3 separate regions of the Homo sapiens genome follow, and all the other regions are linked to region 3. Evidence: fine-mapped expression QTL. A gene starts in region 3. Each other region holds a variant in brackets. All regions are shown on one strand. Distances are between the middles of the regions.

Evidence for each region.
Region 1: its variant is fine-mapped to the expression of KCNH8 in whole blood (TOPMed, PIP above 0.99).
Region 2: its variant is fine-mapped to the expression of KCNH8 in whole blood (TOPMed, PIP 0.93).

The regions. Positions count from the first base shown.
Region 1 is chr3:19,343,728-19,351,915 of GRCh38, reverse strand. It overlaps KCNH8 (potassium voltage-gated channel subfamily H member 8), which reads right to left. Exons shown (of 16, transcript NM_144633.3): 5 at 3,951-4,191. Among named protein-coding and RNA genes, the nearest start is that of MIR4791, 33 kb to the right of the region's middle. RefSeq lists a silencer at 2,857-2,906. The variant C/T (reference allele first, on the strand shown) is at 4,334.
Region 2 is chr3:19,357,689-19,365,876 of GRCh38, reverse strand. All of the region lies in intron 5 of KCNH8 (potassium voltage-gated channel subfamily H member 8), which reads right to left. Among named protein-coding and RNA genes, the nearest start is that of MIR4791, 47 kb to the right of the region's middle. The variant C/T (reference allele first, on the strand shown) is at 3,400.
Region 3 is chr3:19,143,498-19,151,685 of GRCh38, reverse strand. It overlaps KCNH8 (potassium voltage-gated channel subfamily H member 8), which reads right to left and starts at 3,176. Exons shown (of 16, transcript NM_144633.3): 1 at 2,891-3,176. The coding sequence starts at 2,966. RefSeq lists enhancers at 3,734-4,327, 4,328-4,921 and a silencer at 4,615-4,786.

The sequences.
Region 1 (8,188 bases), 200 kb before region 3:
ATTTAGCCCATTTACATTTAAGGTTAATATTGTTATGTGTGAATTTGATCCTGTCATTATGATGTCAGCTGGTTATTTTGCTTGTTAGTTGACGCAGTTTCTTCCCAGCCTCGATGGTCTTTACAATCTGGCATATTTTTGCAGTGGCTGGTACCGGTTGTTCCTTTCCATGTTTAGTGCTTTCTTCAGGAGCTCTTGTAAGGCAGGCCTGGTGGTGACAAAAATCTCTCAGCATTTGCTTGTCTGTAAAGGATTTTATTTCTCCTTCACTTATGAAGCTTAGTTTGGCCGGATATAAAATTCTGGGTTGAAAATTCTTTTCCTTAAGAATGTTGAATATTGGTCCCCACTCTCTTCTGGCTTGTAGAGTTTCTGCCAAGAGATCCGCTGTTAGTCTGATGGGCTTCCCTTTGTGGGTAACCCGACCTTTCTCTCTGGTTGCCTTTAACATTTTTTCCTTCATTTCAACTTTGGTGAATCTGACAATTATGTGTCTTGGAGTTGCTCTTCTTGAGGTGTACGTCTGTGGCATTCTCTGTATTTCCTGAATTTGAATGTTGGCCTGCCTTGCTAGGTTGGGAAAGTTCTCCTGGATAATATCCTGAAGAGCATTTTACAACTTGGTTGCATTCTCCCTGTCACTTTGAGGTACACCAATCAGATGTAGATTTGGTCTTTTCACATAGTCCCATGTTTCTTGGAGGCTTTGTTCATTTCTTTTTAATCTTTTTTCTCTAAATTTCTCTTCTTGCTTCATTTCATTCATCTGATCTTCAGTCACTGATACCCCTTCTTCCACTTGATCGAATTGGCTACTGAAGCTTGTGCATGCGTCATATAGTTCTCATGCCATGGTTTTCAGCTCCATCAGGTCATTTAAGGTCTTCTCTATGCTGTTTATTCTAGTTAGCCATTCATCTAATCTTTTTTCAAGGTTTTTAGCTTCTTTGTGATGGGTTCAAACATCCTCCTTTAGCTTGGAGATGTTTGTTATTACCGATTGTCTGAAGCCGTCTTCTCTCAACTCGTCAAAGTCATTCTCCATCCAGCTTTGTTCCGTTGCTGGCAAGGAGGTGCGTTCCTTTGGAGGAGAAGAGGTGCTCTGATTTTTAGAATTTTCAGCTTTTCTGCTCTGGTTTCTCCCCATCTTTGTGTTTTTATCTACCTTTGGTCTCTGATGATGGTGACGTACAGATGGGGTTTTGGTGTGGATGTCCTTTCTGTTTGTTAGTTTTCCTTCTAACAGTCAGGACCCTCAGCTGCAGGTCTGTTGGAGTTTGCTGGAGGTCCACTCTAGACCCTGTTTGCCTAGGTATCACCAGCGGAGGCTGCAGAACAGCAAATATTGCAGAACAGCAAATGTTGCTGCCTGATCCTTCCTCTGGAAGCTTCGTCTCAGAGGGGCACCCAGCTGCATGAGGTGTCAGTTGGCCCCTACTGGGAAGTATCTCCCAGTTAGGCTACTCAGGGGTCAGGGACCCACTTGAGGAGGCAGTCTTTCCGTTCTCAGATCTCAAACTCCATGCTGGGAGAACCGCTCCTCTCTTCAAAGCTGTCAGACAGGGAAGTTTAAGTCTGCAGTAATTTAATAAATATTAAATGGTATGAACACTACCTTCACATTGTAAAGATACAATATTACAGGCAATATTACAGGCAACTATTTTGTCCCCAGTATTTTAACTTATTTCTCAATGATCACTTTTAGGCCACCTTTTTGAAATATTTTATAGAATAAAGGTTTAGGGAAACAGAGAAATATTAATTTAAGCCATTTTTCTAAATATGCTATAATAAATTGTAGATATGCTTAAACTCATTTAAAAGAAAGAGCAGGCAGATAACAGCAGGAAAGAATAGGAAAGTTTTTACTGCTTATAAAAATAAGTTGGTCAACAAGAGATTTCAGGCAGGAGTCACACTAGAACTGCTTGCAGACCAAAATTTCAAATCCTAAATCTTTGCAGAAAGTAAACACCAAAAAAATTGGAATGGGTTTTCATTCCTTTGCATGTAGCTAGTAAGGGATGGGTATTGCCTACTGGGAGAACCATCTTGCTGCTGAAGCACAGTCGAAATGACAGTAATAAAAAACACAGAAGAATTTAGGGGTTGCTATCAGGGGAGCAAATGAGTCTCCATTGGTTTAGTAGAGAAAAGCAGCCTTAAAACAAATAAACAAAAACTTTTAAAATATCTCCGTCAAAGGTATGAGTTTTTATGGGAGTAAGTCAGTCATCATCTGCTAATGAACATGTGGTAACAGAAGTGGCTTCTAAGGCCAAAGAATGTCAAATATCTAAGAACCAGGAAGAATGGAAAGGAAAGTTCAAGATATAACTTGACCTAATAACAAAGTTGTAAATAACAATAAGATGATGAAGTATTTGTTAAGCAGATACTTACATCTATTATTTCACAAAACCCTATGAAATCACTACTACAAAAAACGAAGGCTTAGCCATGTTGAGTGACTGCCCAAGTTCTTGAGAACTTTGACCAGGGCATGGGGAGTGTTTTTATGATGCTAATTTATGTGTGCATCATGGGTGGGTGGGAGGAGACTTCAAATGTTGGCAAAGTAAAAGGATACAAAACCACAGACACACCCAATCTGTCTACCATTTTCATTTTAAATTCTTGTTCAAACTGGAATGTTATTTTCCATTTAACCATTATTTAATAGATCCCTTTATGGTTACATCTTTCTAATAAAGGATAGCTATATTTTAAAATAAAAAAATTAAAAATAAAATTGCCGTCTGCCTAACTAGACAACATTGCCATCTAGTGGCCTAAACACACTATAGCTACCACTTCTGGGGTGACAGCAGAGGTCCTATCAAGGCTCTGAAGGGTGTGCCCAGTAGACACAATGTTAATAACGATGCCAAGCCATACCAAGAGCACACAAACTCATCCAAAGCAAACGTGCTGACATTCAACCAGAAAACGCACTCTAGCCTCAAAGATTTAACAGCTTCACTGAGAAAAAACCAAAAAAACACACAAAAAAACAACTACTACCACCATTGAACCAAGGTTTTGATGTGCCTCACTTAATTATTTATTTTTCTTTGAAATTTTAAGATCCATTTCTCACTCCTTTGTTCACCTACCTGCTTGAAAATGTTTCCAAACATCCTCTCATCTTTACAGTAAGAATATAGCCCTCTATCACCATGACCAAGGAAAGAAGCAGGTATCAGCTGCTAATGACAGTCAATAACTCAACAGGGAGTCAATCTGTGACTTACAGACCCGGAATCTGTCCTAGAATGAGCAAGCCAGAGCTAGGCTTTGGTCTAAACAAGATGAAGATTTAAGGGACAGGAAAATAGGAAAAGGCTTACAAGATTGGCACAGACGCAGCTTCAACTGAGGTACACAATATTCTAGTGATAAATTATCTTAACAAACATCCTTTGGGGCCTTTTCTTTAATTAAAATCAGATACTCACTGCTTCTCCAGATTTACTGCAAGGCTTATGTAACCCTTTGTTTCTGCAACCAGGTCATTTATTGAAACCATCAACATGCTGAAAGGGCACGGAAGGGCATGGAGAAAGAACACGTCAAGGAGTGGACCACTGTCACAACACCACTGGTGGGTTTTTGTCAAACCCATCTCTGACCCTACCAGTTTAAGATCATGAAGGATGTGAGAGTACAAACAAAACAGCTGTTAAATCTTTTTTAGCCCATTCTGGATGAAATAAGTATAGAAACACAGGAGATCAGTTTAGATCTGTTTGAATAAAGGGACAGGAAAAGTTGGAAGAGGCAATTTTCAGAAATCCAAATACAGTATGTGCTTCTCCAAAATTTGCAACAGAGGCTGAATCAAGCCCATGCAAATGGATCTTAGTTCAAATTCATGTCAGAAAAATCTGGAACACACTTCACTTCTCATATGCAAATATCGTAGGAAAGCAGCTGTTTGTTCTTACCTATAATAAAAAGAATCTCCACTGCAATGTCACTGACGGTTGTGCTCCGAGTTGTGGACAGGTCGTCATTGCCAATAAAGCAAACGTTGTAAGGTACAGTCACAGCAACATAAAACGTTGCCAACAAAATAAGCCAGTCCCAGCCAGCTTTAAAAGTGCTAAAATGCAGAAGTATGAATTTGGACTTTTTTGCATCAGAAACTTTATACTCCGGAAATGCTGGTTTATCTACAAAAACATTCTGTGGATGAAGACAAAAAGGAGAGAAAGGAGAAACACAACATTAGAAACAAGGATTACATAGCTTGAAACACACACTTTTGTGAGTAGGATCATTCACTACACAAAGCAGTATCTTACAAGTGACTTTTAAAAGTTGGTGA[C/T]GCAAAGCATCTAAACATCTAAAACTGAGCAGAGATCTTTGTTATAAGGAACAGGAATATGCAGAGTTTAGTCATGAAGCTAAGTGAGTAACCCAGATTTTGTTCATTAAAAAATAAAAAAGACCATTACCTAAAATGTCATCAAAAAACATTCACAGTTACATGTAATTCTACACACATTATAAACACAAAGCTATATTTACATTCCTATTGTCATGAGAACATTCTGTATACTTGTAGATTTCTGATGACAGTCATTATCTAAAGACTATATTTGACCTGATATTTTACTGATGACAGCAATGGTGCTTTTCTTTCCAAAAAGAATAGATATATGACCAATATTATATTGTAAACAGTTTACATTTCTTTCCAAATATAGCCAAGTCGTGCTAACTACTTTCATTTTTTGCACTGTGGCTGTTGGTGAAGTTGGGAACCCAAATCTCGTTACCTTGACTGACACAGATGCACTCTGACATGGGCCAGACATTATTCAGATGGTAAAGTAAGAAACAGTTGCTTAAGAGTTATTAGTCAAGTCATGGGAGGAGAAAGCCAATGTTCACTGTGCAGCTGATTAAATGCAGAATAGCTGGAGTTTTTGATAACTGCAAAAGCACTTCACTTTGAATGCAGTTCAAATTGATGAACAATTCCCTTGTTGCTAGAAGACAAAGGGAGGCCCAACAATAGCATGTGTGGAAATTTGACAAGCCTGTGACCAGCTACTTGCAGACCTGGCTTTGACCTCAATTAATGGGAAATATAAGATAGGTAATGGAAACTTATATTTGAAAGTTTAGTTGAATTAACAGAGCAGTTATAAATTCCCGAATACATATTACTTGTAGGTCACAATGTTGTGTTCTTGTCTCACTCATTGAGGGAAGGGCAGATTAATGTGATGTGTTCAGGGATCCTGAAGTACCTGAGGATTCAAGAAAGGTTCAGAAAGATCAGGAACATTTAGCTCTAAGTGGTGACTGTCAGTGATTGAATAGTTCTGCTACCTTAATATTAACGCACCCCTGTCTGGCATTTCTCTTTGGTAGGTATTTTCAACCCATGTTTCTACTTCCTGTTAATATTCTCACTCAACCCACACAGGCATCTCATAATGTCAGTACTTCGTGGTGGGTCACTGTTAAACTACTTCCAGATGGTCCTTAAATGCCCATTTGCCACTGCATCTATGTTTCATACAATTCCCTCATATTTGTCCTGTCTCCTTTGTCTCATTCTCTGGTTTCAAGAAACCAGTTCCAAAGGTAGACTTTGGCATAAAACAGAGAAGGGGAGATGAAGTAGCCCCGTTGGGCTTCTCATAAAAATTCGGGCTGTTACATTGGAAGAGGGAATTAAGGTCTATAACCATTAATCTTCTCACCACTGATAAACACTTCAAGTTGTAATAACATGATTGGTTCTAATCCAAATTTTCCCTGAATATTTACTACAATAAAGAATTATCAGAAGCCATGGGAAATATCTCATTTTCTATCCACATAAGTTTTTTCTATCGTATTACAGAAATTAAAATTTTACATTGTTTGAGGGAACATCCATATCTAGGGTAATGATTTGGGAAAACTCAAAAGTGAAGTTTTTGTTTTTGTCTTTGATTATGCTGATTATATGAAGCATTAGTGATTCTGTCACAAAAGTTCAGCAATATATTAGTTTTCTGTACAAATCAGAAAATAAATCTCATGGTTTCATTTTGTAAGCTACTTAGAACATATTTTAAAAATATTTTAAAAAGATACTGAGAATTCAATACATTTGAGATTAGATTTAAATTTTGAAATGTTGTTAACTCAAATCCTGCAAACATCTTTACATAATCACCTGAGTGAAAAAAATAGATGCTTCTCTTCTTCCACCAGCTTTTGTAATGTTTTATCAAAATCCTTTTGAATGAAAAAAATTCTTAAAATTGTAAAAAAAAATGGTACACAATTGTAAAATTATGCTTTTTAGCAGGAAGTAGGGGGAAAGACATGTTATTTATAACTGTCAAACATGGAGTTTGCCTAGTCTAGACGTTAAGTTTATCTTATTTATTAATCTTCAAGCATATTTCTTTAGTACCAATGGTGTTTTAGATGTTTAACCTCCACCTATGAGTTATTGAAACATACTAGTTAACTCCAGTGCCTAATTAAGGTAATTGTTTCCTAAACTATTTTTGCAATAGTTCCTTTGAAACTATCATCTGAATGAGCAAGAGAATGTGAAAATGTTTCTACAGTCACTTCAGTGAGTAATCTAAACCCAGTGTATGCCTTTGCTGATCACCACTGTCCCCGCCAGAAAAATGCATTTGTAGCACTCTCCTTTCAAGTTTTCAAGGCTCTAGTGTGATCTTTAATATTTCTTTGTGTTGAAAACATTTGCATCATATCATTCTCATTTGATTGACAGAATAACAATCAAGGAAGGCAGAATTTGAAAACACCTTTTTCAAGGTATACCAGGCAAAGTTAGAGCCAGACTAAAATATGTTGCATCCTGATTCCCAAACCTGCTAATGACCTGACGAGTTCATTTGACTATGGCTGAAGCATATATTCCTGTTCCACAGAACTGTATCCGAGAAGCAGCAAGGTAAGAGTCAGAAGCACAGTGGCTTTGAATTAGAAGATTAAAGGTTGGGTACCACAACTGCTGCTTCTAATAAGTTGTGTTTTTTTCCATCATTAAAATGGGACTAATAAAAATCAGACCTAGTACTGGCTTGCTATAAGAATCAAATAATATGATGTAAGTAAAAGGAATTTGTAAATAGCAAAGGGCTATAAAATGTTAAGAATTATTTTTTGTGTGTGCAAATGTTATTACAGCCAGAATTTCCAGAAAATTTATTGTTTATTCAATAAACTATACAAGTCATTTCCTCTTCTCCCTTCTGCCTTCCTTCTATCTGCCATTTAGCCATTCTACTATGTTATCCTTGAAAGGAGATGGTGAACACGTGAACAGGGCAAGTCCTGATTCCATACTTTGCTTCAGGAATAAGATATTACCTGTAGTATTAGAGTCACTGGGCTGTTAGGCATCTTAAATTACTATGTATTATTTTAATGCTCTACTCTGATGTTTGTATTTCTTAAATGAATGGCAATTAAGCAAATTAGCTAAGTAGTGGGAGTTATAGTTTTTTTGAAATCAGATTTTTAAGTACTGCTTTGTACTTTGTTGAATCTAAAGGGAAAAATAGCATGCCCAGCAAATGCATTTTAAAGCTCACTAATACTTGCTATGTTTAAATTCTCCACTAAAAGCTAGACAGTGTCAGCTTTCAGCCTTACAGAATCTGTGGATAATATTTGTTTAGGTGCTTTGCTGGTTGATTTGCATGGAATCAAGCCCAGATGCGGTTACCTTTGTTTCTTCTTATAACTTGCTTATGTCACTAAGGCTGACTTGGTAACTGAAAGGGGATGTAAATAGGCACCAGTGGAAGGATCCATAGATCAAGTGGTGTGCACTGTTTCAAGCCTCTCCCTGGACTCCCAGGAAATCAATATAACACTAAGGCACAGGTATCCCTAGAGAAACTTTATATTGAATTAGGACCAAAAAAAAAAAAAATCAAAGCGTGACCACAGTGGTACATGGCACACCAGCACGGACATGGTTGATGGTCCTTGGAGGACAAATGATTCAAAACATCTTGTTTTGGCTTCCAGAAAGTTGCACTGAAGTACAGCCAGGTTTGCAGCACTTTCATGTCAGATCTCGTTCCTCACCCTGGGCTCATACATCTTTCTTTGTTCACTACAATCAGAAATGAATACTTCGTATGTCTGATGAATGGTCCTGTTTTATCAAAGCATGTGTATGTTGGAT
Region 2 (8,188 bases), 210 kb before region 3:
GTCATTATTTAAATGTCATATTCTCAATTATACTTTGCGTGGCCACTGATTTAAAATTGCAGCCCATTCCTTCCCCCTTCTTTGCTTTATTTTTCTACGTGCAACCTGTCACTATCAAGCATGCCATTTAAATTAATTGTTTTGTTTACTGTTTGTCTCCTATCAGGATGTAAATCATATGAAGGCAAGAACCTGTGTCTATTTGCTTCACTGGCCTATCTCCAGCATCTAGAACAGTACATGGCAAATGATAGGCACTCAGTACGTATTTGCTTAGTTAGTAAATAAATATATTTTTCATAGAGATGTTCATTACGATTTTTATATTTAAGTGGCAAAAAATCAAAATCATCTTAAATGCGTAACAATTAAGATGCGGTTATATAAACTAAATAATCATTATATGATGGAATATTATGCAGATATTAAATATGTTTATAAATATTTATAAAACACAGAGAAATAATTATATTAAAATGTTATGAGAAAAAATATTCCCCAAGTTTGCATAGAATACCAGCACAACTACATTAAAACAAGTAGAGAAAACAACACACAGAAAGATTTAAAATGGAAGCAGACATTGTTTTGGAATGGCTGTAATTGACAGACATTTGTTTTTCTCCACTGCTTCTATTTTAAAGTTTAGATAATTAGCACAGTATATGCACAGAGGAACATTAAATCACAAGAAAATACCTTAAAATGTAATTTGTAGGTTTATCGAGAACATTGTCCTTGAGTATGATTTTGCTTACAGTAAAGAATGGTGGAATTATTTCCAAAAATCTGTAAGTCTGTCTAATAGAAAGTGATGGTGAATAAAGTAATTCTTATAATTAAACATAAGCCTATTACATCTTGCCTAAGGAAACATCCATTGCTATGTTTGAAACAATCAAATGAAAAATAGTCTGCTCTGCAGTTTCATATGGTTAAGGAAAATGTAGTGGTTACACATCCTGGGTATCCGTTCAATAGTTAATTTATGATAGCGTTTCATCTTCCCATAGTGAATTCTGAAAAGCCTAATGAAGCAATACGTGAACTGACAGTTGATTTGTAAAACAAATGCAATTTTAATCTTTGCTTAAGTGCTTAAGTAGGTACTTTAAAGTCACCTAATTTGAGAGCTCTTAATAAGAATGATGAAAACAGTACCTTACTTTTCAATGCACGGTCTTTTCCCACCAAGATATTCTGACATGTAAAATCCCTACATTTTTGAGATAAGACACTTACTACCTTACACCTCACTGGGAATCTGAAGTGGTAGTGTAGTTTTCTGTTTTTTGTATAATTATTGCTATATACGCAGGCTTAGATTTATTCACCAAAAAATAGCTGGCCAGTAACCAAGTCGGCAGTGATTCATTTCTAGTCAAAGATCAATGCTCAATATAATACATTCCATTTAATAAATGTTCCAAATATATTATCTTGGCATACAGACACTGTAAATATTCTCATAGCTGCATTATAAATAGCTTTGTGGGACAAAGGTCAAATCCGAGCCATGAATGCCGTATTGAGTCATTGTTAGTGAGAGACCCTATTACTCAATCCTAGATTAGCGTGAATGGCTAAACAGAATAACTGGAAGGAGTCTCCTCAACACGCTTAAGGCTTTGTGTTGTGGAGGCGTGGGCATGAAGACGTGGGGGTATATGGGTATACGGACCTCCATTGCCACCTTATATCTAAAAGGTGTACTAGGAATAGGTGGGAGAATCTGACTATGTTAGTAGTAGGGGAGGAGGAAAAATGAGATTTAAAGAGGAAGAGAGGAAGGGAGAGAGGGAGCCAAACACTAAGAGACGAATGGATGTTAACTAATCAAAGCTTAACTATGTAGTCAGGGTATACCAGAATGTCCAAGCAATTCAGGGGTAAAATTTAATTTAATTTTCTCCTCATCATAAAACTTCAACTTTATTTATTATTAGATGTCTTTGCCTTCAGTATCCAAGTCAGTATCTTTAATTTTAGCCATTTTACCTAAGGAGGAAATGACATCTTTGCAGTTTTCAGGAAAATGACTATACTATAAATTGGGATTTGCTTATACAATGAAATAACATTAAAAAGTCCATACCCTTTCAGGGCCCACTGATGTTTGTGTATTTACCCTGATAGAAAAAGACATCCAAGAATCCTAGAATTAAAGTACCTTTTTGGGGGCTACTAGTGTAACAAGCATTGATATGAGTAGAGTTCAATGGTACAAGAGCACTACCCCTTAGTTCCATTTAACACGAAACGGAGATTATATAGGTTATGCACAATAAAGAGGAGATTTGGAGAAAAGTTTTTTGAAGCAAGTATGTATTTGTAAATGATACTAAATATTGAACTCAGATCCAGCAAAATTATGAAGCTGTTGTTAAGAGACCTCTTGAATACTCAAGCTGGTGATTAAGCCTTTAGCTAATGACTTGCTTCTAGACTGTGTTACTGGAAGTCCCAGTTGTGCCTTTCAGGCCTCTTCAGAGCTGTTCAGGAAAAAAGGAGGGGGAGCTGAAATGCTGATCAGCTCTTTTCCTTGTTCTTAGAAGTGCTGATGGAAGATTGGAAGAGAGAAGATAACTGGAATGATTACTTCTAATGTTGTTTGACATCATTCAATGCATGTCAGTCCCTAGAGTACTGCAGATAAAGGATGCCTGACAGGTAGATACAAGATGATGGTCTTTAAGAGACCTTCTCTTGGCTTTTCAGAAAGATGCTGAGCCAAGTCTGCATAAGTACCTGAAAAAGCCTCCGCTCCTTTAAGTAGTAAATGAATCCTCAGACACTTGTGTTCCTGAAAGCTTTGAGTTGTGCAATGTTCTGGTGTATCTTAGTCCCAAGATTAGCTGGATTATTAAGTATGTTTCAAAGGATGCTAATTTTCTAAAAACAGTAGATATTAAAACAAACCAAGGAGGCTGGGCACAGTGGCTCATGCCTGTAATCCTGGCACTTTGGGAGGCTAAGGGGGGAGGATCACTTGAGCTCAGGAAACTAGCCTAGGCAAAATGGGGAAACCCCATCTACAAAAAAACAACAAAATTAGCCAGGCGTGATGGCACATGCCTGTAATCCCAGCTACTTGGGAGGCTGAGGTAGGAGCATCACCCTGGGAGATTGAGGCTGCAGTGAGCTGTGATTGTGCCACTGCACTCCAGCCTGCATGACAGAGTGAGACCTTGTCTCAAACAAACAAACAACAAACAAAAACAAAAACAAATACTGAGGAAATACAGGCTTGATGACCTTGAACATGCCACCTCAAGATACGCTGCTTTGTTATATTGATTATTTATAGCTGAAGGTATTTGAGAAACAGCAGGTGCAGGAAAGTTTCCCTGACCCTCTTCTAAATGCAAATCATAAAATTTCCCATGAGACAGGTGCTTT[C/T]CCCATATCAGAAAGAAAAGAACATTCTTATCACTGAAGACTGGGAGTTGAAGCTGAGATGAATCTGGACAAACCAATCTACTAAAACAACTCATCCTCCATTAATTTCCCCCATATATTTCCTAGTCACTGCCCCACAATTTACTTCCCCTGTCTTGTCACATCCTCACAATGTTTAACACATTTTTAAAAAAGCTATTTAAGCTTTGGGGCCTAACAGCTTATTTGGATTTTTATTTTCTTTATGAAGACTCCTGTGTGTATGGAAAAATATTTAATAAAATTTGTATGCTTTTTTGCCCTGTTAGTCTGTCTTACATTAGTTTAATTCTCAGCCACAGAATCTAAGAAGATAGAAGGAAGATTTTCCTCCCCTACATTATCGACAATAATCATCATTATTGATTGAACAGTGAGTGAGCTGATTTCTTGATATAATTACCTCACCAAATTCTCACAATAATGCTACTTCTTTGCCCATTTACAAATGAAACATTCAGGGTTTTAGCTCTAGCTTCGTCAGTAATTAACCAGATCTTGTATCAACTTCTTACTTTCCCTCCCTTTCTCCTTATGTATACAAATATATACCTGCCCTAATTATGTCACTAAAGTTAATACTAAAAATTAAATGATGTTCAGAAATAAAGATTCTGAGATAGAAAAATTTGGGTATTTGTAAGTTAATAGAAGTATTGGTTAATAAAGCATTTTAAGCAAAAGGAGAAAAAATAATTACAAACAATGAAAATGTGTATATATGCTTATAAGAAATGCTGCACCAATGGGAATTCTGCTCATTTGTTTAATTTTTACTCCATTTGCAAATATGTAAATTGGTATTACAAGCACAAATGCTATACCAAATAATAGTAATGCCGATTGGTGAGTTAAAGTCAAACCCATGTGTTTCTAAAGTATCTCCCATGGTTGGTATTGCTCCTCTGAGAATCGGCAAACTAGAACTACTCAAGTGGATGTAGGAAATAACCTCAAAATACAGCATTGAATATAAATGCCAAATATGTATGGAGTATTTTGAGTTATAATGATTGGGAACATTACTGGTGTGTAGTGGGCAAGGACGTGAGATGTTCTGGCCTGGACAGGATAATCTACCCAATGTGATAGCCCTTTACTCCACAAGACTTTCAACTGTTTGGGCAGAAAAATGTGGGATCTCCTTTATTTTAAATAATGAAGAAATACATGAGAGAAAAAAATCCATGATTCTATTGAAAAACCATTAGGAAAACTTAATTTCATGACTTCTTTTTCTTGTTGTTTTTCCCCACTCAAATGTTTCTCCTGTTATTATTTATTTATTTTGATTTCATCACTATCTCACTCCAGGTCTGAGCACAGGAATTGTTAGAATACTACATATAGGGATAAGGGCCAACAAATTTGCCAGAAGACTCAGTTTCCTCATTTTTTCTATTTTCATAGACTGAAATTTGTCTTAGCATGCTATCCTTACCTGAGTTAGCTATTTCCCAATTTCTGTTGTCATATATTAATGTCTGCTTAAATGAATACTCATCATAATACTAGTTCTTATTCTATGTCCACTTGTACCTCTACTCTTTTAATTTGCCTGTACTTCCTCAATGGAATTATTGTAAATCCAAGTTTGTTCATTATAACTAACTGCAAGTATTTATCTCATTATGCATTTTAGTATCCTAACGCTACAGCCCTTATGAATTGAAATACACAAGAAATTATTATAAATGATTTCTTTTATGTTGTCTCTGATATTACAGTATCAGAGATATATAAAATTGTATCAATTTTATTTTTAAGATGACTAGGTAGAGAATAAGAAGGCATTATAAAATATTTGTTATGGAAAAGGCAATGTTGGGTTAGAAAACATTGTCCTAGACCAGGGGTTGGCAAACTTTTTGTTTAAAGGACTGATTGTGAAGATTTTAGGCTCTGTTGGCCACAGTCTCTGTTGCAACCACTCAACTCTGCTGATATAGTGGGAATGCAACAATAAAACATATACAAAAGAATATGAGTAATTGTGTTAACGATAACTTTTATCTATAAAAACAGGGAGAAAGATTTGGCCTCTGACACTTGGTTTGCCAATCCCTGCTCTATATTCTTTTTTCTCTACTGTGTAGTTTTTCATTATATACATCCACCCATCCACCACACTTGATTTATACTCTACTATTCGGTGAATATAGACTTTGTTTCCATTATTTTGCTCCTGCAAACAATAACCCAGCAAACCTTTTGCACATGTCTGCAAGTGATTCTCCACCTAAAAAAGAATAAATGCTGAATCCTAGGGTATGTGCATTTCAAATTTGATTGAGTCTTGCCACATTGTTCTTATTTTCATTTGCTATCTAGGGTATAATTTCTGTCCTTATCTTTATGACCTCCTTTAGGCTTTTGCTCATGCTTTTTAAAAATTCTGGAGTAATCACTTAACTCTTATATGTATGTTTTTTACTCTAATTTTGTTTATTCTCTATTTGGCATTACAGTTATACTGCTCAAAACTCAAAAGTTCACAGAAGGTATCCAGTAAAATCTTCCCTTTTCTGTGCTCAGTACCTTGTGGTTCTCTCTGGAAGCAAAGAAGCTCAGCAATATCTTATTTAAATCTCCAAAGACAACCTAAGCATTGTCAAGTAAATATACACACACATACTCTTTCCCCACCCCTTTTGTATATAAACGTTAGCATACTATATATACACAACTAATCTTGCTTATTTCATTTCACAATATGTCTTGGAAATTATAATAAATGCATAAATTGGCAACATCTAGAGGCAATTTTGATTGTCACAACTGGGCAGTGGGTGCTACTGGCATTTAGTGGGTAGAGATCAGAGATGTTGCTAAACATCTTGCAATATACAGGGCAGCCTCCATAACTAACGATTATCCAGCCCCAAACTTCAGTCGTCCCACGGTTGAGGAATTCTACTTAAACGATATTGTATCAGGTGTCGATCACGTTTTTCAAATCTCCTATAGTCTAAAAATATTGATGTGCTAGTTTATCAGTTTCTGATACTGCGTGTTATTATAGCTATTTTTATTTTCTAAAATAAGTTTCTCTTTCTCTATGTATATACACATGCACACACAACACACATATATATATAAGTACATATATTTATTATGGTTATATCTTCTTAATAGTTTCTTTTATTAACATATAATATTACTTACTAGCCCTATTAGTATCTTCGTCTTAAATTTTATATCTCAGCTATTTATATTCTTGCACCTCTTTTCTTTTGGTTAGTATTTACATAACAGATCTTTTTTCCAATTCCTCTAGTAATTTTGTATTAGATTTAATTCTATAACTGGCATATTTTTGAATTTAAAAAATCCATTGACTATCACTTATTTTAGCATGTGAGTTACTACCCATTAAGTGTTTACATTTGAATATTTGTCATATATCTTGATTTACTGCTGTTATTTTTCATCTTCTAATCCCCATATTTGTCTTCCTCATTTGTTTTTCTCCTTTCCTTTTCCTTGTGGATTAGTAATATTTCATATTTCCTTAGGTTTTTTTTTCTGGTTGTTTTGAAATCACTGGGTCCATTAATATTTTTGTTTTATTTTTGCACAGTTCCTTTAAAAATTTTAATACACACAACTAATTACAAAGTTTTCTAACAATATTTCCTGGGTTCTAATGTATTTACTCTGGACATGTTAAAAGGTGACACACTGCTTTTTAGCCACCTACCATCACCTCCATATGGTCATCACTGTTTAGAATTTTGGTTTCTATGTATTTAAAAAACATAAAACACCTTAATATATTTTCAGTCAATAGTTAATTAAATTTATCAACATGTTTTAGCAGTATCTGTTATAACTTGTTTTTATTTAGTCCATTGAAACAATATTGTTTATTTTCACCCAATGGTTAATCTAATTTGTCAACATATTTTATCAATTTTCATTTCAAATTTTGTTTTATCTTGGATCCACTCCTTCCTTCTGGCTTCACTTTTCTTCCTGCTAAAGAACATATTTTAGTAGTTCTTTCAGTGAGAATCTGTGGGTGGTACAATAGTTTTATTTTTTGTGAAAATATCTTCATTGTGTACCCTTTCCTCAAGAAGAATGAACCAAGAGAAAGAAATGAAAGAAAAAAGAGAAAGAAAAGAAAGGAAGGGAGAGGAAGGAAGGGAGGAGAAAGAGAGAAGAAGGAAAAAAAGAGAGAGAGAAAGAAAGAAAGAATGAAAGAAAGAAAGAGAAGGAAAGAGAAAGAGAAAGAAAAAAGAAGGAAGGAAGGAAGGAAGGAAGAAAAGGAAGGAAGAAAGGAAGGAAGGAAGGCCGGCCAGTATTTTTTTCTAGTAAGCCAGATATTGTTCATTGCCTTTTGGCCTCTACTGTTGCTGAGAAATCTGACTTCAGTCTAATTATTATACCTTGGTAAGTAAATTTTCTCTTTCAGAAGGCTTTGAAGATTTTCTTTTTAATCCTTTATAATCTGCACAGTAACATGTTTAGGTATGGAGTATATGTATTTTTTATCCCATTCAGTTCCTAAAGTGCCCTTTTGGACTCAGGATTTATATATATATATTCCTTCTATTATGAAAGCTTCTCAGCTTTATCCCTTTATTTATATATTCCCCATTACGCTATCCTGTTTTTTCAGATGTCCTGTTAAATAACTCAGTGATTTTTTGACTAAGGTAAATATAAACAAAGCATACTTGCATATCATGTTACTTTTGACACTTAGCTTTCTGAAGAGTTCTTAGAGAGACCAAAGCAATCAGAG
Region 3 (8,188 bases):
TTCCATTATGTTGCCCTGTGATAATATCTCAACTGATAAATAGTAGGATTATGTTATAGAGTTTTATGTTGTCATATATTTATTTTTCCTGGGAGGATTTTCAGATGATGTCTTACATTGTTTTATTATTCTCCAATAAAATAAATTAATAAGGCTAATAATAATACTGCATGTTGGGTACATTAGCAAGGCAGTTTGCCAGGGTTGTTGTTTGCTCTCTAATTTTTTTTTCATAAAAATTGTCCAAAATAAAATAAGAAACTAGCATGACCGTAAAATATACTTCACAAATAAGGTAAAAATTATACCAACTCAGCATATTACATATTCAGTATAATTAACATTATTCACTTTCCAGCAAAGTTTTTGAGTAGGTGGCAATTTTGTAAATTTAAAATTTGTAAATAGTTTTCTCTTGCAAAAGAAAATAAATGACAGCTATAAAAATCAATAGAAGTAAGGATTATCATAGGAAAATAGTTTCAGAGATAGTAATTACAAAACTGTATCAACAAGAAACAATGGCATAAGAAGATAAAGTAAATAGCTAGCTGGAAAAATGGTATACCCATTATTCTAGATATACCAAAATTTGTGGCTAAAATTTTGTTTAAGGTATTTTAAGTTTCAGATTATTCAAGTCATCCTGCTATTCAAAAAGAAAAAAAAAAGAAAGGAAAAGAAAATGAGAAAAGAAAACCCTCTTTCATTGAGTGGGGGTTTCTTGGGAGGAGAGGTGTTCACTAAATGTTGTAAACAAAACCTTGCCAAAGTCAACCCTTATGTTACTTATCACCTTCAAATTTGCTTCTCTGATTGTCAGATTTCATGCAAACTGGTTCCCTCCAGGAATCCCCCAGATGCTGTGGAGCACAGACCAAGCATGGTCTCCAAAAGACTTTTTGATTTCTTACTATACTAAATACAGGTATGTCAGGATGGTCTTCTTTAAAAATAAGGATTTAAAGTATCTAACCTATCTTATTAACATTAATGTGTAGCCAACATAGAAAAAGAACTATTCACAAGTACATCCATCTCTCCCTACATGCCCTCCTGCTTATCATGCATATCACTATAGTCAGAGTCAGAGGCCAAGATATTTCCACGCTGATGATTTAAAGCCCCTCTCATTAGCAATTGATATCTGAATGTATCACTGCAGTAATTCCCAAGGCTGTGCTGGGATGATTCACTACACATTACACTTCATTCAACTTTAAATGGCAATGAGATAAACAATTACCATTTGCCAATTACCTCATTTTCAATAGACAAATTCAGGATCAATGTTTACAGCCTTTTAGTTTTGGATGTTCAACTTCAAAAAAAAAAACATCCACATTAAACTGATCAGTACCTCAGGTAATGAATAGTAAAATAGTAGTATCCGCCATCATGCATGGTAAAACACAGCAGTGGTGATTTTGTGTGGCGCTTCAGTGGTGTGGTAGTGGCAATGGCAGGGACTTGAAGTTTTCCTATAATATTTATCATTATTATCTAAAAAAGACATACGTAATAACATTACACCTCATACATAACATCTAACACATTTAGAATATAAAAGGGAAAAGAATGGCTAGATGTAAAGATAAAAACACTTATGAAGTGACCAAATATCCACACCAACTACCATGATTAGACTAGATGTCAAAAATAAAAACTGAACAAAATTAAAGTGATTCATTTCTTTCTCATGTAAACTTTTCCAACTATCCCTGAAGCATAAGTCCAAGACTTGCTTCCCACCCAAAGATAAGACTGTGTATTTAGACTACTGGAGTGGAAATGAAATTAGTATTGCTCTCCCATATCAGCTCCAAGAAATATACAGAGTAAAAGCAATGACACTTGAACCACTAAGAAGGACTTTAGGATAAATGAGTTTCTCTGAGTCTCAACAGAAAAATGGAAGACAGTGCACAGAAGCAAGATAAGCTAGAAAGAAGATGAGGATATTCGTAGTGAAACCAACTGAGAGCATTTGTTAGGGGTGGTAGTACAGACTCCTAATTACAGGGTTAAAGCCAGCTAGGAAGATCCACAGGGTCAAGTAGAGAGCTTGAAAAGCCTGAGAAGGAGTGGGGACCTGACCGTGGTCCTGAAAGAGAACAACTTGCAGATGATAACGAACCGTCTGCTAGCAACCACACAACATCCTATCTATTTTTTTTCCTACTGTAGCTTAAATGAGCTAAATGTCCAATAATATTCGTACTCAAAAAAAAAAAACTAAAAACTTTCTCTTATCATCAAATCGTCTTTATTCATGTCCTTCTTCCTGAACAGCCTCTGCTTGAGTGTTAGGCTCATTTAAGGATTAAAAGATACGCTATTCTAGCTCAAAAGCAGGAATCAAGGTTCTGACAAACTCACAACACTTAAAATTCTACAGAAAGCTTACACTTGGCAATCCTGCATTTCTTAAACTCAGATAGAAAATCATACCTATCCGAAATATATCACGGAATGAAGCTCCAAGAAAGAACACTCCAAGCTCTCCTTTTGATCTAGGGAGCCTTGAAACTCTAGAAAGATTAGGTACACCGATATTCCCCTTTTCACCTCAGAAAATTACAACCAATTCCCTAAAGATACACCAAAATGCAGGTCCCACAGTGAATACGGGCGTCGGTCTTTCCTCAGGCTGCGTTTCAGTCCTTAACAAACCCAAGAACTCAAGAGAGCCAACTATTACACCAATACAAAGTGTTAATACTACACCAAACCATGAGGGAACAAATTTCTCCGCACAAAAGATACCTTGGCAAGAACAGAAGAAAATTCACTCCGCTGGTGCAAAAGGGAAGGTGGGAGCAAAAGTAATGTGTACGAGAAAAATCAGTCTCAGAAAATGCCATACCACTCGTTCAAGTGTAAGACTTACGTGTTCCGTCAAAACGGGTGGCGATGGTGTCCAGGAAGGTGTTTTGCGGCGCCAGTAATCCTTTCATAACCGGCATTTTTCCAGCGTGGTGTGAAATTCTCCATCAAAGTTTGTCCAGAAGGATGGTTCGAAAGGAAAGTGCCAAGAAGGGAGAAGGGGAACCTGATGACGGCAGGGAAGGGGGACCCGGCCTGACGGCGGGGCCGAGCAGGGGAAGTGGAAGGATGGAGGGAGAAAGGGAGAGAGTTCCAGCCGCCCCGGCTGTGGCAGGAGGAGCCCCAAGAGCGCTCCCCGAGCCCGCCCCGCACCTCCAGGCTCAGCCCGGCGCAGGCTCCCTCTCCCGCCCCCTCCACCCCCGCCAGCTGCTGAAACCCCCCCACCGTCCCTCCGCGGGCAACAGTGCCCGCCAGGCGCCGCCGCGCGGTGCCTCGCCCCCCACGTCGCCCGCCCGGAAAGAGCCCGCAGTGGCCCGGGGCGCCGCGCCCTGACCGACGTCTCTGGGGTCTGGGAGGGCGGCGCTGAGAGCTGGGAGAGGCGCTGAGCCTCCCGGTCTCCACGGGACGCCGGGAAAGGAGAGCGAGCGCAACTCCCACGCCCCGGGAGCCAGTGAACAAAGACCCCTTTGTTCCCTCTCCGTCCCACTCCCGGGGAGACTGGAGTCCCGTGGGTGTGGTATTGGAGAAAGGGAGGAGACAGGTCGGGGCAGGTATCCGGCCTCAACCTAGAACTTAGGAGGGGGAGGCCCCCCAGTGGTGTCCAAGGGAGCAGAGGCAGCCAGGAGCCCCACGGGGAGGCGGCCCCCTTCCGGAGCACTTGCCATTGCGAGCCCACGCGACAGGGGCAGGGCAGCCCGAGTTAGTTGTGAGGCCCATCCCCAGTCACCAGGGTCTTTTAGTCCGGGAAACTGGCCCCGAGCTCCAAAAAGGGGTGCTTCAGCCCTTCTCCCCAAATTGCCATTGGCCTCCCCAAGCCATCCCAAACTTTAAAAAAATAGCCTTTTGAACGGACAATGGATGGTTTCCCATTCTCCGGTAAAATGTGAATAAAGCATTTCTAGAAAAGTTTGCTATTTTTATTAATTTGCAAAATACCACGTAAGTAAAAACAGTAAGGCTGCCTTCCAAAAATAGCTTCAAACACAAATCCCCTAGCCTGCCCCCCTTTCCCCAGCCCCCACTCCCGAAGACTGACACCTCCAAGAAGAAAGCCTGGCGGACGGCCAGGAACTGAAGGCGTCTCAGAAAACGAAAGTGGTCTCTCCCAGTCCTCCCCCCTGGCCCCCCCCGCGGGGACTCCCTCTCGGCCAACGTTCTGCGGGGAAAGTCGCCCAAGCCTGCGGCACAGCCCTGTGGGGAGTGCAAGGGGACACCCAGAGCCCGAACTTTATAGAAAACTCTGCAAGGGAGGTGGAGTGTGGAAGGGAAGTTGAGAGCCCCAGGGTAGAAAAACAAACGTAAGCCCAGGTGCTAGTGCACCCGGAAGGAAAGGAGGGAAAAAGCAAACAGGTGTCAGAGCCGCGGCGAGGCAGCTCTGATCTCCAGGAACTCGGGCGTGGCGGGAGGAGGGAGGGAGGGCCCACCCCCCGCCCCCTTACTAAGGGGGTTTCTTGTTTCAATTATCTCGGCTGTTGGGGCTTCGGGGGGGACCCCGCGGGTTTCGTCACGTCTGCCTTGGGCTCCGGGAGGGAGGGGGAGAAGAGAGAGAAGCGGCATCCCCCTCTCCCCGCCCCCAGGCCCCCTTTCTCGTGATGCACTTCCTGCGGCCGAGGATTCCCTTTGTGTTGAAATTCGAGAAGATCCGGCAGAGGCTCTAGGCTAGCTGGGCGGGGGCGCGCCGGGGAGGGGACAGGATTCCGGAGTGGGCGGCGCGGGGCGGCCATCCCAGAAGAGAAGCTACCAACGTGGGGTTCCTCGCCCAGCTGCACCCTGCTTCTGCCGCAGGTCCGTCCCTGTCCTCCCCTCAATCCTTGTGTCCCACCCCAGCTTCGCTTTTCGGAAACCGAGCTCACGCGGGTGGAGTCCCCCACGCGGCGAGCCGATCGCAACTGCAGGTGGCTATGTGGCTCAGTCTTGGGCGGAGCTGGGGAGAAAAAGATGAGGGAGTCCCTGTTGTTTGGGTGGCGCATCGTGTCCCAGAAAATTCAGGCTGTTGCTGCCGATGTAAAACGGAGATAAACGCCACCCGTGAATTGGCTCGAAGTTCAGGATGAAATGTATTAGTTGTAAGCTATGACTGTGGTTCATAACAATTTGCACTGTAGGGCCGTGTGTGTAAAAATTGTTTCCTCGTGGTCCTGATCTGTTACCTAATATATGAAATCACTGCAAGAAGCAAGCCACATAGTGGCTTAAAAATGACAACCCAAAAGAAAGCCCCAGTTTCATGGCAAAAGGAGCCTGGCATTTATCATTCACTGTCTCCCCTCCAACACCTATTATGTGTCAGGAACTGTGCTAGGCATGGCAAGATCCCTGCCCTAAATTCAAATTCAAGCCCTGTATTCTACTGAACTGCAGTAGATGGACCTAACTATCTCTTATATCCTTTGCCCACCAAGAAGTGTTTCTTAATGAAGACAGCCATCACCACTCTGGTCTTGAGTTCCAGGCCCTTTTTAAGTTCTAGCCCGAAACCTAATGTTCATCCTAAGGGTTTGTGGCATCAGTGAGGCCAAATTGTGCCATTAGAACATGACCTCCATCCAAGTTTAAGTATATTAAATCCCTTTAAACATGTTTTGCCACCTGGAAAGCAAAGACCGTGAAAGAAGCACCATGGGAGTCTGGAGTTTTCACTATCATCTGCCCCAAATCACCAAATCTCATGTGCTTTCCTTAAGGAAATTTTCCCACTGTCCCCACTTATTGACACAAAAAAACCCAACTCATTTTGTTGCAACTCATTTTATTGACACAAAAAACCCCAACTCATTTTATAGTAGATCACACACTACAGGGATGTGATCTTTCTCTACGGACTAAACGAGACAATGCTACAAGAATACAGGATAACCACACAATAGAGTAAACTTAATGCCCTCATTAAAAATATTGATGTTCATGACAACACATGGACACAGGGAGGGGAACATCACACACCCGGGCCTGTTGGGGGCTGGGGAGCTGGGGGAGGGATAGCATTAGGAGAAATACCTAATGTAAATGACGAGTTGATGGATGCAGCAAACAAACATGGCACATGTATACCAATGTAACAAACCTGCACATTGTGCACATGTACCCTAGAACTTAAAAGTATAACAATAATAATAAAAAATTCATGTTCACAGAAAAGATATTTTTCTTTCACTTTAAAATGTAAAGGAAGGCACAAAATCCCTATAACCAGACCAAGGTACTCTATTATGTACTATAGAAGGCCTCTAGGTAAAACCAACCTAGGCAAAGTTCACTGATACAATAAACTGCCCCAAACCCTACTGACTTAAAATGTCAACAATATTGTATTTTGCTTTCAGATCTCCAATTTTTACAGGGATCAATGGGGCAGGTTATTTCTGAGTACACTTAACCTGGAACTGGAATATACACTTCCAAGATGGTTCACTCAAAGTTATGGAAATTTGGTGCTGGCTTTCAGCTGGGAGCTCAGCCAGTGCTAGGGCCTTGGGGCTTCAGTTATTGGTGTAGATCTCTCCAGGAACTACTTGGGCTTCCTCACAGCATGGTGGTTTCCAGAGTGTCTGAAGAGACAGGAAGTAGGAACTGCCAGTTTCTTAAGGCCTGATCTAGAAACGGCCAGATTGAAAGCAAGCACAGAATCCAGGTTAATCAGAAAGGGGGAAAAGTCCAACCTTTAGATGGAACAAGTATCAAATAAAATGGAGCCATGTTTTAAAATCTTCCTATCAATTTGTTAGTATTTTGAGTTTCAAAGGAAGTTGCCTCATAACAGCATTCCTTAATGTGATTAAAAATCCATTTTTACCTATTCTTTATGTCTCCATAAGCATTTGAGATTTATGGGTACAAGATCTGGGTTCAACTCTATAATTCCTTATAGGGAAAATGTAACACACAAGAGAGAAAATACACATTAAATTCACTTAAGAGTTATAAGCCACAGATAAAGCAATTTTTATTCTTATTTTATTTAAGACTGACTCTCATTAGCATTTGATGTTGTCTTTTCAGACTGACTGGAACTGGAAAAAGCTTCAGGGCTCTCTATATTAGTTTGATGGTTTTAGGTCGGCTTCACGTCTGTTTTCTAATTATAGCATTCATCCAATACCATGACACAAAATAGCTGCAAATGCCTTATTGATGCATATGTATTTGACTGTAGGCACTGAAAATATTCTTAAACTTTTTCTGGCAACAAGAATTTTAGCCTTCGCAAGAAGGCAATATTTTAATTTACAGGCATCTACTCAGATGTATTGAGTTCTAGTTTTGTTTCAACCACTTATCCCCTTTGTCATTTAAAGTTTGTGGGTTTCCATTTCCTTAACTGTAAAACTGGGATAATAATACTTTCCCTACTTACTCCACTGAGTAGAAGAAAATATTTATGAAAGCCTTTGAATCTCATAATATGTGGCATACAATAAAAGGGATGATAATAATCATTGTTCTCTTTTTTATGTTCTAACATATCTAATACAAGTTGTTTATCCACAATAAATATTGTTGACCAACTATGACAGTTTATGGTCCTGTTAGCTCAGAACACATTTATGTATTAATAATTTGTTACAACCTATGACTGGTGAGCTTTTCCTTCTAAATATAAATGACTTTAGAAGCTCAGAAGGAAAATCAAGCAGTTCATTTCTTTGACTAACGCTTTCAAATTGTTGTGCTCTTATATCCAACCAAGCTGGATTCCAGTGGTATGTTCACTGCCTCCTCTTCCCCAGTGTTCACTGCCTCCTGTTCCCCAATGGTCACTGCCTATTTCTCAGTGTATGTAGAAACTAAAATACTCCAGCACAATCTCCAAAGCTATGGTTTCAGTCAGAGTAATCTAGGTTATGCCTCAATAAAAAACATAATATCTCAATGGCTTATTACAATAATGCTATTTCTTGCTCAGTCTACATGTCCCACCTGAGTTGGTAAGAGCCTGCTCATTATTGGGGCCCAGATTGATGGAAGTTCTGCTCAAAAGGTATTTTCTTTGAAGAGAAAAAGATAATCCGGCAAAGCATATACTGTTTTTTCAAACTTCCACTTACAACTTAATGACCAAAATAAGTCATATGGCCATCCTAATTTTAAAGAGGTGGTAAAATACAATCCAACCCTTGCCCTCAAAGAAAAGGAACTCTGGAAT